Linked DNA regions of Homo sapiens. The protein of the gene in region 1 interacts with the protein of each later gene in a pairwise test. Each region holds a gene or a part of one and is shown in the gene's direction. Other genes may lie near its edges.

The links.
Region 2: the proteins of MS4A1 (region 1) and TMEM72 interact in binary tests that used the Homo sapiens proteins (3 or more experiments, as listed by UniProt).

The regions. Positions count from the first base shown.
Region 1 is NC_000011.10:60,465,068-60,472,438, forward strand, and holds the end of MS4A1 (B-lymphocyte antigen CD20), read left to right. Parts: intron 1-853; coding exon 854-1,090; intron 1,091-1,891; coding exon 1,892-1,993; intron 1,994-3,182; coding exon 3,183-3,401; 3' UTR 3,402-5,685; downstream 5,686-7,371. UniProt on the Homo sapiens protein: B-lymphocyte-specific membrane protein that plays a role in the regulation of cellular calcium influx necessary for the development, differentiation, and activation of B-lymphocytes.
Region 2 is NC_000010.11:44,913,579-44,922,543, forward strand, and holds part of TMEM72 (transmembrane protein 72), read left to right. Parts: intron 1-8,965.

The DNA.
Region 1 (7,371 bases):
CTGACACACTCAGTTTGGGGGGAAAACTTTTTATGAACATCAAATTATTCTCTAGATACAGCCAGATTTACTGACTTGCCATGTGTAGGTCATAGAGCCAGGAATGAAATATGCGCAGCATAAAATAATAATCAATAATCCCATATCATTATGGTACTTGTTATTTATATTTTCCTGTTTCAACCTTTTATCATCCCTGCAAGGTAGAACATTCACACTGATATTTTCTTACCTATGCTACCCAAAGACATCAGCCCTAATTGTATTTTGGAAGATAGCTGACTGGGGCTGATTGCAACCTATGTCAGCAGGAATAGATGTTGTTACTGTTGTTGCTTCTGCTTTTTTTATTTCCATTTATTTGATAGTACAGATCTAGAGGGTTCTATCTGAACCTTCCCAACCTATACTTCATAATACCATCCCACTAAAGTGTGATACAAGAAACTTCTTCACTCTCTTCCCTCTACCTATTTATGAAGGCAGATAATAAACTGGATAATATTTATCTTCACTTATTCAACAAACATTTATTGAGTGCCTACTAGGATGGTGGCAGTGGCAGTGAAGGAAATGCAAGGATACAAGATATAGAATCAAGGGTTACTCTTAGAATTTTTGCTTTATAAAACAGATGGATGGTGAATGAGATAGGGAAGACTGAGAAAAGAACAGGATAGAGACATGATTTTATTTTATAGTGACAAAGAGGCTAAAAACAACTGAGAGAACTTCAGTATATTTAGTTGTAGTTGCTTTGTGAGTCAGGGCAGTTGCATTTGGAATTCCCTCCCAGATTATGTTTTCCAAAGGGAAATCAAACCCAATTAATAAATCTGTGTCTCCATTTCAGGTCAAAGGAAAAATGATAATGAATTCATTGAGCCTCTTTGCTGCCATTTCTGGAATGATTCTTTCAATCATGGACATACTTAATATTAAAATTTCCCATTTTTTAAAAATGGAGAGTCTGAATTTTATTAGAGCTCACACACCATATATTAACATATACAACTGTGAACCAGCTAATCCCTCTGAGAAAAACTCCCCATCTACCCAATACTGTTACAGCATACAATCTCTGTTCTTGGTAAGTGTTCTTGGTAAGTGTGAGATTGGATTTCTCTCCAGGGAGGAAGGATGACTTGTTTATTATGAGCATGAACTCTGGATCCAGACCACCTGAGTTTGCTAGTTACTGTCTGTGTGGCTTTGGGAAAGAATTTTAACCACACTGTGCCTCAATTTCTTCAACTGTAAAATGGGGATGGTAACACTATTTATCTAATAGGGTTGTTCTGAGGAATAAATAAGTTAATATATACAAAGCATTTAGAACAGTGTTTGGTACACAGAAGTGCTATATAAGCATTGGCTTTAACATTAATTATTCTCAACATCATTAATGGCATTAATATTTACCATTATATTAACTAAGATGAGCATAGAAGAAATTCCTAAGATGTTATGAATATCTTTTGCCCAAGGACTTTTAAATGTAGAGTTTGAAAGAGATAAAAAAAAATGCATCTCCCAAGGATGAAGAGGTCTCCTAGGCATGATGCCACACCAACTAAGGCTGAATACAATTTAATTTGAGACTCATTACTTATTCTTTCCTATACAGAATTGATTCTTCAACTGATTATTCATACCTTACTTTCTATCAGCAATACACATTAACCATCTGTTGTGTGCCAAAAGTTGTGTTAAGAGTTAGGGTTATAAAGATGCTGTCTCCTGTACTAGCAGTTCTCACAGCTATTCATTACTTGTCTAAAGAATTGATCTCTTAATCGTTCAATTATAGTCAACAATAACTTACTGAACACCAACAATGTTCTTTGTGCCATTATTACATTTTCACCTTCATTCTTCTGTTGTTTTTCAGGGCATTTTGTCAGTGATGCTGATCTTTGCCTTCTTCCAGGAACTTGTAATAGCTGGCATCGTTGAGAATGAATGGAAAAGAACGTGCTCCAGACCCAAATCTGTAAGTAGTAGCCCCTCTGGCCAAAACCTCCCTCTAGAAAATCCACATCCACAAAGGATCATTTATGGAGAATGTAATCTGATGAGTTGTTGAAACTAGGAGCTTGATTTAAAAAAAAAAATTGGTCTTGGCATATTTCTAGAAAGCAAATAATATGATGTCTTGAAATTTGAAATAAGTCTGTAGTTAGAGCCTACAGTTCTATATTCTGTGCGTCTTTTTTTTTTTTTTTTTTGAGACAGAGTCTCACTTTGTTGCCCAGGCTAGAGTGCAATGGCGCGATCTTGGCCCAGTGCAACCTCTGCCTCCGGGTTCAGGCGATTCTCCTGCCTCACCCTCCCGAGTAGCTGGGATTACAGGCACCCGCCATCATGCCTGGCCAATTTTTGTATTTTTGTAGAGACGGGGGTTCACCATGTTGGCCAGGCCAGTCTTGAACTCCCGACCTCAGGTGATCCTCCCACCTCAGCCTCCGAAAGTGCTGGGATTGCAGGCGTGAGCCACCATGCCCCACCTCTGTGCATCTTCTTATTAACCTTCCCTGCTGCTTGACTTCAGGCTTCCATCCTGATTTCATGATTCCATATACAGTGTGTAAAAGCAAGATGGTTGAAGGTTGAAGGCTAAGTCACTAGTTCTTTGGTTTCATTTTTCAGTATTCCCCTCTTCCCTCCTTTTCACCTAATTCCTCTTCCAAAACAACAGGTTAAAGGGCTCCACAAATGGGAAATAAAAACAGACCAATAATAGATATATTACTAACTGCTTCAGAACCAGACTGTTAGATTTAGAATTTAGAAATCATCGCTAATTACTTCATTTTGCATTTAAAGAAAAATAGTATCAAAGAGAGAAAATTATTCTCCCAGAGTTATATTCACTAAAGGCAAATCAGAACGAAAATCTAAACTCCTCTATTACTGCAATGTTCTTTTCCCAATACCACGTGGTCATTCCAGGCACTGTGGTCAATGTCTGCTGCCCTTGAAGATTTATTCAGACTTGAGTTTTAATAAATGACTTGATAAGGATATAAGCACCTGCAAAAAAATTTTGGCATTTAAAGGCATATAATAAATGACATAAGTAGCATAAAAACCAGGAGGTATTTGATAAATGTTTGTGGAGATTGTTGACAAAGGTGTCAGTGGTAAAAGTAAAGAATGGTTTGTTTAATTTTCTGTTTTAGAACATAGTTCTCCTGTCAGCAGAAGAAAAAAAAGAACAGACTATTGAAATAAAAGAAGAAGTGGTTGGGCTAACTGAAACATCTTCCCAACCAAAGAATGAAGAAGACATTGAAATTATTCCAATCCAAGAAGAGGAAGAAGAAGAAACAGAGACGAACTTTCCAGAACCTCCCCAAGATCAGGAATCCTCACCAATAGAAAATGACAGCTCTCCTTAAGTGATTTCTTCTGTTTTCTGTTTCCTTTTTTAAACATTAGTGTTCATAGCTTCCAAGAGACATGCTGACTTTCATTTCTTGAGGTACTCTGCACATACGCACCACATCTCTATCTGGCCTTTGCATGGAGTGACCATAGCTCCTTCTCTCTTACATTGAATGTAGAGAATGTAGCCATTGTAGCAGCTTGTGTTGTCACGCTTCTTCTTTTGAGCAACTTTCTTACACTGAAGAAAGGCAGAATGAGTGCTTCAGAATGTGATTTCCTACTAACCTGTTCCTTGGATAGGCTTTTTAGTATAGTATTTTTTTTTGTCATTTTCTCCATCAACAACCAGGGAGACTGCACCTGATGGAAAAGATATATGACTGCTTCATGACATTCCTAAACTATCTTTTTTTTATTCCACATCTACGTTTTTGGTGGAGTCCCTTTTGCATCATTGTTTTAAGGATGATAAAAAAAAATAACAACTAGGGACAATACAGAACCCATTCCATTTATCTTTCTACAGGGCTGACATTGTGGCACATTCTTAGAGTTACCACACCCCATGAGGGAAGCTCTAAATAGCCAACACCCATCTGTTTTTTGTAAAAACAGCATAGCTTATACATGGACATGTCTCTGCCTTAACTTTTCCTAACTCCCACTCTAGGCTATTGTTTGCATGTCTACCTACTTTTAGCCATTATGCGAGAAAAGAAAAAAATGACCATAGAAAATGCCACCATGAGGTGCCCAAATTTCAAATAATAATTAACATTTAGTTATATTTATAATTTCCAGATGACAAAGTATTTCATCAAATAACTTCATTTGATGTTCCATGATCAAGAAAGAATCCCTATCTCTATTTTACAAGTAATTCAAAGAGGCCAAATAACTTGTAAACAAGAAAAGGTAACTTGTCAACAGTCATAACTAGTAATTATGAGAGCCTTGTTTCATAACCAGGTCTTCTTACTCAAATCCTGTGATGTTTGAAATAACCAAATTGTCTCTCCAATGTCTGCATAAACTGTGAGAGCCAAGTCAACAGCTTTTATCAAGAATTTACTCTCTGACCAGCAATAAACAAGCACTGAGAGACACAGAGAGCCAGATTCAGATTTTACCCATGGGGATAAAAAGACTCAGACTTTCACCACATTTGGAAAACTACTTGCATCATAAATATATAATAACTGGTAGTTTATATGAAGCAGACACTAAGTGCTATAGACACTCTCAGAATATCATACTTGGAAACAATGTAATTAAAATGCCGAATCTGAGTCAACAGCTGCCCTACTTTTCAATTCAGATATACTAGTACCTTACCTAGAAATAATGTTAACCTAGGGTGAAGTCACTATAATCTGTAGTCTATTATTTGGGCATTTGCTACATGATGAGTGCTGCCAGATTGTGGCAGGTAAAGAGACAATGTAATTTGCACTCCCTATGATATTTCTACATTTTTAGCGACCACTAGTGGAAGACATTCCCCAAAATTAGAAAAAAAGGAGATAGAAGATTTCTGTCTATGTAAAGTTCTCAAAATTTGTTCTAAATTAATAAAACTATCTTTGTGTTCTTTTCTGCAACAGATGATTCCAACATGGGTGTTTGTCTATTCTTCTTTACTCTTGAAACATTAGACCATGGGAGGCTCTTACAGCCTTGAGTTGATATTTATACAACCCAAATCTAGGTTTGAACGGTGAGGTGTCAGGTCATCAAATATTCATGTCTATATAGTCTTACACAGGTTCTCAAAAAAAATGTTCATGGGATAGGTCATTGATAATGGATTCCTTATTCTGAGAACTCCAGACGACTGAAATATATGAGAGAAGGAAAAGGACATAGTAGGAGCAGGCCTGAGAAAAAAATGAAAGTCAGAAATCTTTAAAAAAATACAAGATCTTATTTCTATCTTATTTTTTCTCCTCTTCTGAAATATATATGAGGATTCCTCTCCAAACCCATGGTTTCTCTAAGAATTTTGAGTCATTTGTATGACCTCAAATAATTAGTTTTAGCTGACCTCACATAACTCCTTATAATAGGAGACATCTTTAATGTCTGCTATTAAAGAAGGATGAAAATTCCTATGACCTTCTCCCCGATTATCCCTTTGGCAATATAGAGTCAAATAATAACATTGACCAATAGTAAACATGCTTTGCCAAGAAGTAGAAGATATATTCTCTAGCCTTAGTTTTTCCTCCCAATTTGCATTTTTGTAAAAATAATGTTGTATCCACAAAGGAAATAAACTTTAAAAACCCAAGTGCACTCATTGACTAGGAGGCTGACGTAACTTATTTTCATTTTCTTCTGGTTTTCTTATAATCTTTGTTTAAAATAAGGTGATAAACCATCCCAGTTTGTCTGAGTCTGAGGGATTTCCTGGGATACACGATTTTCAATGTTAAAACCAAGATAGTCCCAGGCAAACAGGATAGTTGATTATCCTACTTCATAGTAATAGATTACTCACTTACAATCACTGCATAATATTTACTTTTTACATGTAACAGTATATCATAGATTTTTCCTTATTGATACATAATTTCATAAGCATCACTTAATTTCAACTTAGGATTTTATGAATCAATATAAATTTACCATTCCTCTATTATTGGATATGTAGGGTATTTCCTTTTCTTTCTTTATACAAATCACTTTTGGAGCACAGAAATCATGAGCAAGATACATGTTTCCTCTTATTATTCAAAATGTAGCTTTACATTTAAAGTCTTGTCAACATTGACCAGTAGGAATTACTAGCACCTGTTAAAACCCAGAAAATTTACCTTTAATTTCACATCAACAAGAGAATAGTCAAAGATCCAATACACAGAAATAGTTACTTCAGATTCATTTAGCTTGAGTTCATTTAAGAAATCTGATTTGTTTTAAATTCTTGGTGTATAACATAAAACACTGATGGAGGGGTTCAAATCTGAAATTTTCCTAGGTTAAGTCTTCAATCCTTTAGTGAGCTTCCTTTTATGGAAAACTTGGTTGTGTGTTCTGAGCTAAAAAGTACCAAGTCATAAATGAATATGATAGAATCATGTGGTGGCAAAATCAAAGCAAAGTTACAATTATCCTCTATTGACCCCAGCCTACTCAGCAGTGCAAAATGCTGAGAAAGAATAAATAAGTTGTCTACCCTTAGAACTTACTACCTGGCTGGAGAAAGAGAAATTAGTTCATCAGGTACCTGTTATGGGTAAAGCATTTTGTTAAGTATGGTGGGGTACAGATAAAGATAGGAGAAGCTCCCTGATCTCAAAAATCTTACTGCCTAATTGAGAATGATATAAGCATATGTATTAAAAGATAACCAATAAAGGTCCAAGAAAACTCAATGTGAAAATAACAATCTTTTCAACAAACTGTGGTGGGACAACTGGATAGCCATATACAAAAGAATAAAATTGGATACCTACCTCACGCCATACACAAAAATAAAAATGGAGGCCTAAATGTAGGAGCTAAAATTATAAAACCTCTTAGGAGAAAACATAGGTATACATTTTGTTACCTTGGAAAGGCAATGAGTTCTTCAATATGACACCAGAGGCACAAGCAACCAAAGAAAAAATAGATAACTTTGTTCTTAAACAAACAAACAAAAGAAACAAAGAAGGAAAATAGGAAGGAAGAGAAAGAGAAAAAAAGAAAGGAAGTAAAGGAAATAAAGAAGGACACAACTTTACTCCATACTGTTTGGGTTTTGAGTTTTGGTATACTTTAGACTCCCAAGAAGGAATTTAGAATAGGAGTTACCAAATGGATGCACATTAGCATGAAGTGAGAGTTTTCCAAAGCCCTACTGCCTAAGCTGAGCCCAGATATAATCATTAGAATCTCTGGGCTAGCAGATGTCTATTAGGTCTGCTTGGTGCAGAGCTGAGTTCAATTCCTGGGTATCCTTGTTAACTTTCTGACTCACTGATCTGTCTAATGTTG
Region 2 (8,965 bases), on another chromosome or scaffold:
TAGGAGATTCAGACTAAAAATAGCCATGAGCTCCCTTCTAATGGCCAGGCTTTCAAATGATCTTGCTCGGGCTTTCTAGAGTGCTGGGAGGGAGTGGGAGGCTAGAGAGAGGGGTTTGGTGTTCTTGGGCAAATCTCGAGTTTCTTCCAGCATCACTGAACTCCTGGCCTATTTCCAGTACATAGGATTTGCAAATTCCTTATTCTCCTAAGCCTCTCTTTTGTTGAAATCTTCTGTTGAGAAATCCAGGCTTCATTTACAAGGGCACTGCTGCTAGAGAGGAAATAAGACCGGAAATAGAGGGCCTCACTTTGCAGAAACCCTAGGGAGGTGGGGAGTGTGGATTTCTTAAAAGCTAGGAAGACATGTGACCCAAGGGCACTCAGAGTGTCACCTGCAGGGACCAGGCAGCTGCTAAGAGGCTACAGCCTCTCATTAGCAGCCTCTTCCCTGGACCCCCTGCAGACAGGATCAGGGCTGTCAAAAGCACTGACGGCACCTGGTGGGTGCCTCTGCCAGCATGTCAAGGCCCTATGACTGTGGATGAAGCCACAGCCTTTGGATGAAGCCTCCTTAGGATTCCTCGAAGTCCCGCAGACCATTCTTGCCCCACCTCAGTGTCCAGCCCCATATCATGAGGGGTTGTAGAGCACAGACGGATCATTGCCACCACCAAATTGGGATAAACAGGCCTCAGGTAGTTGCACCTGGGTGGAAGTGTTTCTAAAATTAGAAAATTCCCTCCCTCTGGAGCAGTCATGTGGTTTCCAGGACATAACAGACCACTCCCGCATTGTTTACACCGGGTTCATTTGCTTCACCTCCCTGGCTCAGGATGTGGGGTTGGGGGGCAGGCGCCCATGGGTCCATGTGCATGCATGCGCCCGTGTGATGTCTAAGTGCCTCAGTTGCTGAGACGCGGCATCCATTGCCGCCCATGGAAGCAGACACAGCTGGGAAATGGCACACAGGCTGTGAGCACTCCACATTCCCCTGTGCGGATGCCGGAGCTCCTGCCTGTCCATCCCTCAAAGCAGGTTCTCCCCGTGTCCACTAGAGACAGGGTAAAGATGTCCTGAGTGTGAGACTCAGGCCCCAGAGGAGGCTCAGCCCTGTGACAGGTTCTCAGCACAGACCAAATGGCAGGAAAGGGGTCCTGGGAAATGGATTTAACTGAGCCTGGAGCACAGCGGTCCAGGGCACTCCTCCCCTGTGAGATGAGAAAGGACCTGTCCCACAGCATTGGTCCCAGTTGCAGGCTAGGAAAGCAGGGTTGGCTTCCCTTTGAACTTCAGCCATCCTCTTACCCTTTAACCTCAGGGGAATCTTGAATAACTCCTTTGCCACTCCCCAGCCCCTGCTGAGGTGGCCAGGAAGAGCATGGGAAGAGCCCCCTTTGTGGGACAGAGGAGGCACCTCTCAGGCCGTCCAGGCTGGGCATGGAGGGAAGGGGAGACATGTCCCTGAGCCCCGCCTTGTAGTGAAAGCCCTCCCCTCAGGCTGTGTCCTCACACACAGATGTGCATGGGCTTCCCCATAAGAGGCTTGCTCAGAAAATGTCTCTGGGCACTTGAGCAAGGCCTCCCAATTTCCCTCAGAGCAAAGAGGCTCCAGCTTGAGGCCCCACTGCCCCATCTCCAGGGCTGAATTTCACTCTTCCAGCCTCTGCCCAGAGCAGAGGTTGCTGAGAATGAACATGATTATTTGAGTATTTACTCAAATAATACTCAAAGCCCAAGCTTTGCACTGTGTATTTTAAATGCAGTATCGCATTTCATCCTCCTGTCATTGGGAGCATCATCATGTTCATCCTCATACCCACTGTACAGGAAGGGAAACCGAGGCCTGATGGAGCGAAGCATCTTGCTCAGGGTCTCACACCAGGAAGCAAGAAGACAAAGTTCCACCTGATGATGGTCTGCTCCTGAGACTCCACTCCTAATCGTTATTTCCTCCACCTGAATCAGGATTAAAAAGCATGTCCCATAGTATTTTGATGACCCCAAGATGCAGGATGCAAAACACACAGAGGAGAGCAGGAGAGGCTTGATCAGAACTTCCCCATCCTCTACCCTCATGCTCCTGCCCTTGGTCAGTTCTGATCAGTCAGGTGGGGTCATGGTGAGGACACACGTACAGTGAAGCACATAGTCAAGGATCACCAAACACTTTCTAAATCTCAAGACACCGATATTCATTGCAGCTATCCATTCTCTATCTCAAGATTGCCACACATGCTTTAACCAGCACCACCGTGACCTTCTCTAGCCAAATCTGCTCCTGGAACCCATCTGGGGACAGACAAATCTGCACACATTTCCAGGGGGAACTATCACAGTAGGGCTTGCCTTGATGGGTCCAGAGGTGCAGGGCTGACTGCATGCATTATGGTCATTGTCTCGCTCCAGCCCCACAAATGCCTGAGACGCTAGAGTGCTGGGCTCAGTCCTATTTTACAAATGAGGAAACTGAAGCTCAGAACATTGAGGTAACCTGGCAGAGGTCACATGGCCAGGAGACAGAGGTCCGGTGTTAGAACTCCACTCTGCCCAAACACAGGGCTGTGTTATGGCAGCTCCAAAGCAAAGGGCATGGCAGAGCCAGCAGGGCATGAGGGGATGGAGGCAAAGCCATTCTGAGTGAACTCTGCTTGTCAGGCTGACGTGCTGTTTCTCACAAATTGAGTGCTTGGAATCAACCTGGAATCACTGAGGGGTTTTATTTTGTTCCAGGTTTTGACCCATTAACCTGTTTCTCTATATAATGGACACAGCCACATTTTCAACTGCTCCCATGCTTCCCACACAGTTAGAGCATTGGCTTATTAATGTACATTAGGAGAAAAGAAGTATTTAAAACCCAGCTGTTCTCATTATATTTTAAAGGATAGAGCAAATGCATAGTTTGACCTTAGCCCTGTTCAAAGCCTTCAGGAAAACAAATGCTTCTGAAGCAGCCATCTTGGGCCCTCCATGCTAATTTTACCCCTCTTACATGTATATCCCCATGACCACCTCCTGCTGTTTAAGAAAGTGTCATGCACTCCAACGCCTCGCAAGAGATTTATCACCCAAGTGAGCCCACATTGTATTTTCAGACCTTCCAAGTGAATGTTGACTGTTTTCCTTTTCTGTTACAATTGGCTCCACAAGTAAATGGAATCTGCCTCCCTCTGTTCCCCCCACCTACCACCAACAGGCAATAGGATTTGGTTCAAACATTTCTTTTTTCACAACTTTGTGCCTGTGCCTTGCTTCTAGATTTATAACAAGAAATCTGAAACTTCAATTAGGTTTCATTTACTTGGCAAACTGTTGCTGAGTCCCCAGTGATCTGCTCCTGAGACTCCACTCCTAATCGCTATTTCCTCCACCTGAATCAGGATTAAAAAGCATGTCCCATAGTATTTTGATGACCCCAAGATGCAGGATGCAGTCCAGTCCTGCATCCCCAGTCCTGAGTCCCCAGTCATGCAGCATAGACACATGGATTAGAATGGCAAGACCTTGCCCTGTGGGAGTGTATGGGCTGGACAGAGAAGCAAACTAGTAAGTGCACATCCGAGCACCAAGCACTGCAGCGTAGTGTTTGGGAGGTGGGTCTGTGTCCTGGGACAATCACTGTATCTACCCTCTGGAGTTGTGAGGGCTCAATGAAACAATGGCTAAAGTAGCAAGCTGCCTGGCACATAGATTCTCACTCAGCATGGGCTAATTTTAGAGGAACGTGCAGGGCATGGAACTGTGTAGCATGAGTTATCAGCTCCTTTTGTTGGAAGGAAGAAGAAGGAAGATCCGAGGAAAGGAGCAAAGCAGTATGTGACTCATGAGGCTGGAAGGAGGAAGGGGCTACACTGTAAAGAGCATTATACTGGGAAACATTTCCCATCACATTCTGAGCTTGGGTTGTGAAGATCAGCCCACAGGAACTTGGCTATTTCTACACCACATATAGTAAGCCAACCAGAGGAAAGATGGCAGCCCTGTTTTATTTTTCATGGGATGACAGCTCTTTCAAGATTGTCCTGGGTTCTATTCAGCCTTCTGAAGAGGGCTGTGAACAAAAAGAAATGTTGTCTGACATAAGTGGCTGACACTGTGAAGAAGGGGCTCAGGAAACCCCCAGGAGACCAGGTAAGGGTCAGATGAAGAAGCCTGATGTGTGTGGAATGGACAGAGAACAATGGGAGCATGGACAATGCTTTCTGGAAACCTGCCATGTGGATGAGTGAGCAGATGCATTCTCCCTGAACACTGAGAAGGAATAGGAAGTGAATACCTCGGTTCTCCCTGACATTGAGACCTAAAAGAAATTTCTCCTGTGGGCCTGTATAAGTTTGTTTTCACACTGCTGATAAAGACATGCCCAAGACTGGGCAATTTACAAAAGAAAGAGGTTTAATTGGACTTAGAGTTCCATGTGGCTGAGGAAGCCTCACAATCATGGTAGAAGGCCAGGAGGAGCAAGTCACATCCTACATGGATGGCAGCAGGCAAGGAGAGACAGCTTGTGTGGGGGAATTCCTCTTTTTAAAACCATCAGATCTCTTGAGATTTATTGACTATCACGAGAACAACACGTGAAAAACTTGCCCCCCTGATTCAATTACCTCCTGCTGGTCCCTCCCACAACAGGTGGGAATTCAAAATGAGATCTGGGTGGGAACACAGCCAAACCATACCAGGGTACTTACAAGGGAGATGCTATTCTACGTGGGAGACACTATCCTCAGTAGTGCCAATGAACCATATGGGTCTGCAGAGTCCTTCCTCATCACCAAAGAGTGGGGTATCAGCACAGATGGCCTCACAGGTGAATTCTACCAACACTTAAGGAAGAAATATCTATTCCACACAAACTCTTCCAGAAATTTGAAAGGAGGCAATACTTCTCAACTCATTCTATAAAATTAGTATTTATGTGGATACCAAAACCAAAGATATTACAAGAAAACTATAGACTAATATTCTTCTCAATATAGATGCAAAAATTCTAAGCAAAGTTTTAACAAATACAAATATATTGAAAGAATGATATATCATAATCAAGTGGAGTTCATCTCAGAAATGCAAGGTTGTTTTAATATTTGAAAAATCAATTAATGTAACTTACCATGTGTTATGGACTAAATGTTTGTGTCCCCCCAGCCAAATTCATATGTGGAAATCCTAACACCCAACATGATTGTATTAGGAGGTAGGGCCTTCTCTGAATGGAAATAATGCCCTTATAAAAGAGACCTGAGAGAGCTCCCTAGGCCCTTCTATCATACAATGTGCGGTAACAGTGAGAAGACAGTTTTCTATAAGGAAGGGGTCCCTCAGATACCAAATCTGCCAGCATCTTGATCTTGCATTTCCCAGCCTCCAGCACTGTAGGAAATAAATTTCTGTTGTCTATAAGGTACCCAGTATATGGGATTTGGTTATAGCAGCCGAAATGGACTAAGACATCATATTTAAAAACTAAAAAAGAAAAACCATATTATCATCTAAATAGACACAAAGTTTTAAACGAAATCCAACATTCTTTTATGATTAAAATAAAACTATCATCAGCAAACTAGTAACAGAAGGAAACTCCCTCAACCTTAAGAGGTCATTACAGAAAACATACATCTACTTAAATGTAAAAGACCAGGTGCTTCCTCCTAAGATTAGGAACAAGGCAAGGGTGTCCACTCTACCACGTCCAGTCAGCATTGTACTGGAGGTTCTAGCCAGTGCAAGAAACAGAAACAAAATGCATACAGATTGTCCAGGAAAAAGAAAAATTTTATTCACAGATGACGTTATCATCTGTAGAAAATCTAATAGAATCTACCCCAAAAGCTACTTGAGCTAATGGAGGGAATGGCAACATTGCAGAAGACAAGCTTAATATATAATAATCAACTGTATTTCCATACATTAGCAACAAACAATTAGAAAATGAAATCTTTAAAAATACAAATTATAATAGCATTGAAAATCCGAAATATTTAGGGATAAATCTGACAAAAGATGTAAAACAAACTACACTAGAAACTAGAAAACATTGCTGAGAGATAACAAAGAAAATCTAAATGAATGGAGATGCATCTTGTTGATGGGTCAGAAGGCTCAATATCGTTAAGACATCAGTTCTCCCCCAAATTGCTATACAGTTTCAATAGGAGCTCAATCTGAAGTCTCTTCCAACTGAATGTCCAGAAATATCTGCCATGAAATCCTTCCCTTTTCCCACACTGTCTCTGAACCCTGGCTCATGTATATCAGCTGAACTGATCTCCACACGTAGGTAAACCTCCCCACCATGCTTACTGTTTGCCACAACTTCTGAGCTAAGAAGCCTGTGGCTACTACCTTACTGTCCCAGTGAATTCACAGCAACTGTTTCCAGCAACTCCATAGTCTTGGAAATGGTACAAATCTAGCTTTTCACCTCTACCCTGGCGGTGACCACCTCTCCTGGACCATCCACGCCCATTGTCATCAGCCTGGAGCGTCTTTCCCTGAGGTGTCTTTGGACACCCTGAGTCCAGCAGGAGATGAGAATGAAAAGAAGCAATAAATATACGCGGTGGGTTCGGAGGCTGCCCTCAGCAACAGTGAGTACAAAATTCTCATCCAATGCCCAGGGCATCCAGTGCCAAGGTTAGTGTGGCCTCTGATGACTGTGAAGCGTCCCATGTTACCACCAAGGGCATCACAATAAATGCAAGACATATGTCACAATTCAACCCATGGAGTCAGAACGGATAAGCAACAGTGGATCATGAGGTCAGCCCTATGGCAAAAGCAGCAGCAGCCTGAGGCCAGGGGAATATCCCCTCAGTAGGCAGCCCCGCAGATGGCCCCAGCCTCAGGAACATGCTGGCCTGAGCCCCGTGGGGACCCTAGCAGGGTTATGGAGGGCTAATACAAGAGATGTGGAGATAGATGGGAGTTTGGGTCACTTATATCCCAACTGGGCTTTGAGAAGGGACCTCAAAGTAAATTAGTGAACAACAAGCAACACTGGTGCACAGGGAACAGCTTTTTGGCCACAAAAAAACCCACAAGTGTGTTAATGGGAGCAAAGGATGAGAATAAACCCTCTCCTTCCACTGGAGAATACTGATGGGAACCGCCTGCCTCTTATAATAGCTTTCCTAGCCATCGTCTGCATTTGTGCAGCACTCTCATTTACTTAGACTGAGCAGTGGTCGGCACCATTTTGCATGTTTTTATTTTCCCCATTTTCCAGAATAAGATGCAGACCAAAGAGTTAATCACTTTCCTGAGGATGCAGGACTCAGCTTTTCTGATGCAGGCCCCATATTCTTTCTGCTCTGGTGCAGCCCCCTCCTAGCTTTCGTCAACCCATGCTGAGACCAGAGCTCCAGGATGAGAAGGATACTCACACAGTGGCTGCCCTGCCCAGGGCTGTACCACAGGCTCTTGGCCCAGGATCTCTGATCTCTGCTAAGCCTGAACTACAACAAACAGCTCAGGAAAGCAACACAGAAGCAAGCCCTGGACCCTGAGAGAAGAAAGTTCTTGTACCAAGGTTGGATCTGGCCCACACAGGAGGGACAGAGACTGGAGGGAAGGAGCTAACAAGATGAGAGAGGCCAGGCTTGTCCATGAATGGCTCCATCAAGGTGCGATGCAAGGCACCTCCTGGGATCATGCAGGGAGTGAGACAGAGGCGTGGGGTGAGCTGTGCTGGAGTGGGCATAAGGTACCTCTGTTGGGCTGGGGTGAGAGTAGCTGGGGAGCCTGAGGTGGGATAATAGGGAGGGATGGAAGGAGTCAAAGGCCACTAATGGCCGTGTCAAGCAGTGCTGTTCAGTGTTCCCTTGCCCCTCCACCTGGGCAGGAAAGACAGCACAGCCGGACTGAAGCACATCTCAGGGCGATTATTTCTTGTAGAGAATTTGGTGTCATGAGGCTCTGATTCTGCGGGTAGCAGGGCCTTTGTCCCATTGTTTGTCTCCATTGATTGGCTCCTGATCATTGATCAGCTAATCCAAAAATCAGCTCTTCAGTCCCTGGTCCCAGCTCAGGGTAATGCCCTGGGGGTATCTGTTCCAGTGAGTTGCTGATTCAGGCCAACCACTTCCACACTGGACTAGCACCCTGTGAAGGCAGAGCTTCCAAGACACCAGCCCCACTGCCCTGTGAGAAGTATGGAAGGCCAGAGCGCAGGCTAAATTCCAAGAGGAGCTAGAAGCCCTCAGACTCTGGGCCTCCCAAATCTCTAGATGCCAGGGCCAGAGCTACCACTCTCAGGGCCCACGAAGGGCCTACACTGCGCCTGAGGGAGGGAGTACCACCTTGGGCTTAGACTGAAGGCCACATTAAATTACAATGAGGGCCCCCTTAATTTTAAGAGGAGCACCTCCTTCATTGTAGAACACCTCCTTAATTTAATGGCAAATATCTTCTTAGTCTTAGGGAGAACACCTCCTTAATGAATGAGCACCTCTGTAATTTTAGGAGGTGTGCCTCCCTAATTTTGAGCCCTGGTGTCCTTCTGGGCCCACTCTGCTCCTAGTTATCCGGGTGCCATAACTTCTTTGTGTTTAACAGAGAGCCCCGCCTAAATCTGAAACCTGGCAGAAACCTAAGGTCCAATTCCACAAAACAAGGAGTGGGCTGTCCTCATCCACAGGTTGAAGTGAGGCCTTTGAGAGGGCGGGGGCCCACCTGTGCAGTCTCCGGGAACAGACGCTCAGCAGACTGGAGAGGAGCTCCTTCTTACCTGTGACAATCCCATTCTTCATTCAAGCCCCCACTAAATTTCAGGCCACACTTCATGTTCACCTCCTGCCAATTCTGGAGAACAGTCCCCTGGAAAAAAAACTTTTGGGAAACTCCAGGCCCTGTGTGAAAACACTTTGGGGTCCTATATCTATGTCATGTGGAACTGTGATACCTTCCAAAAATATTTTGTTCCCAGTACAGTCCAGTTAGCACACCAGGCTAGGAGCTTCCACAGC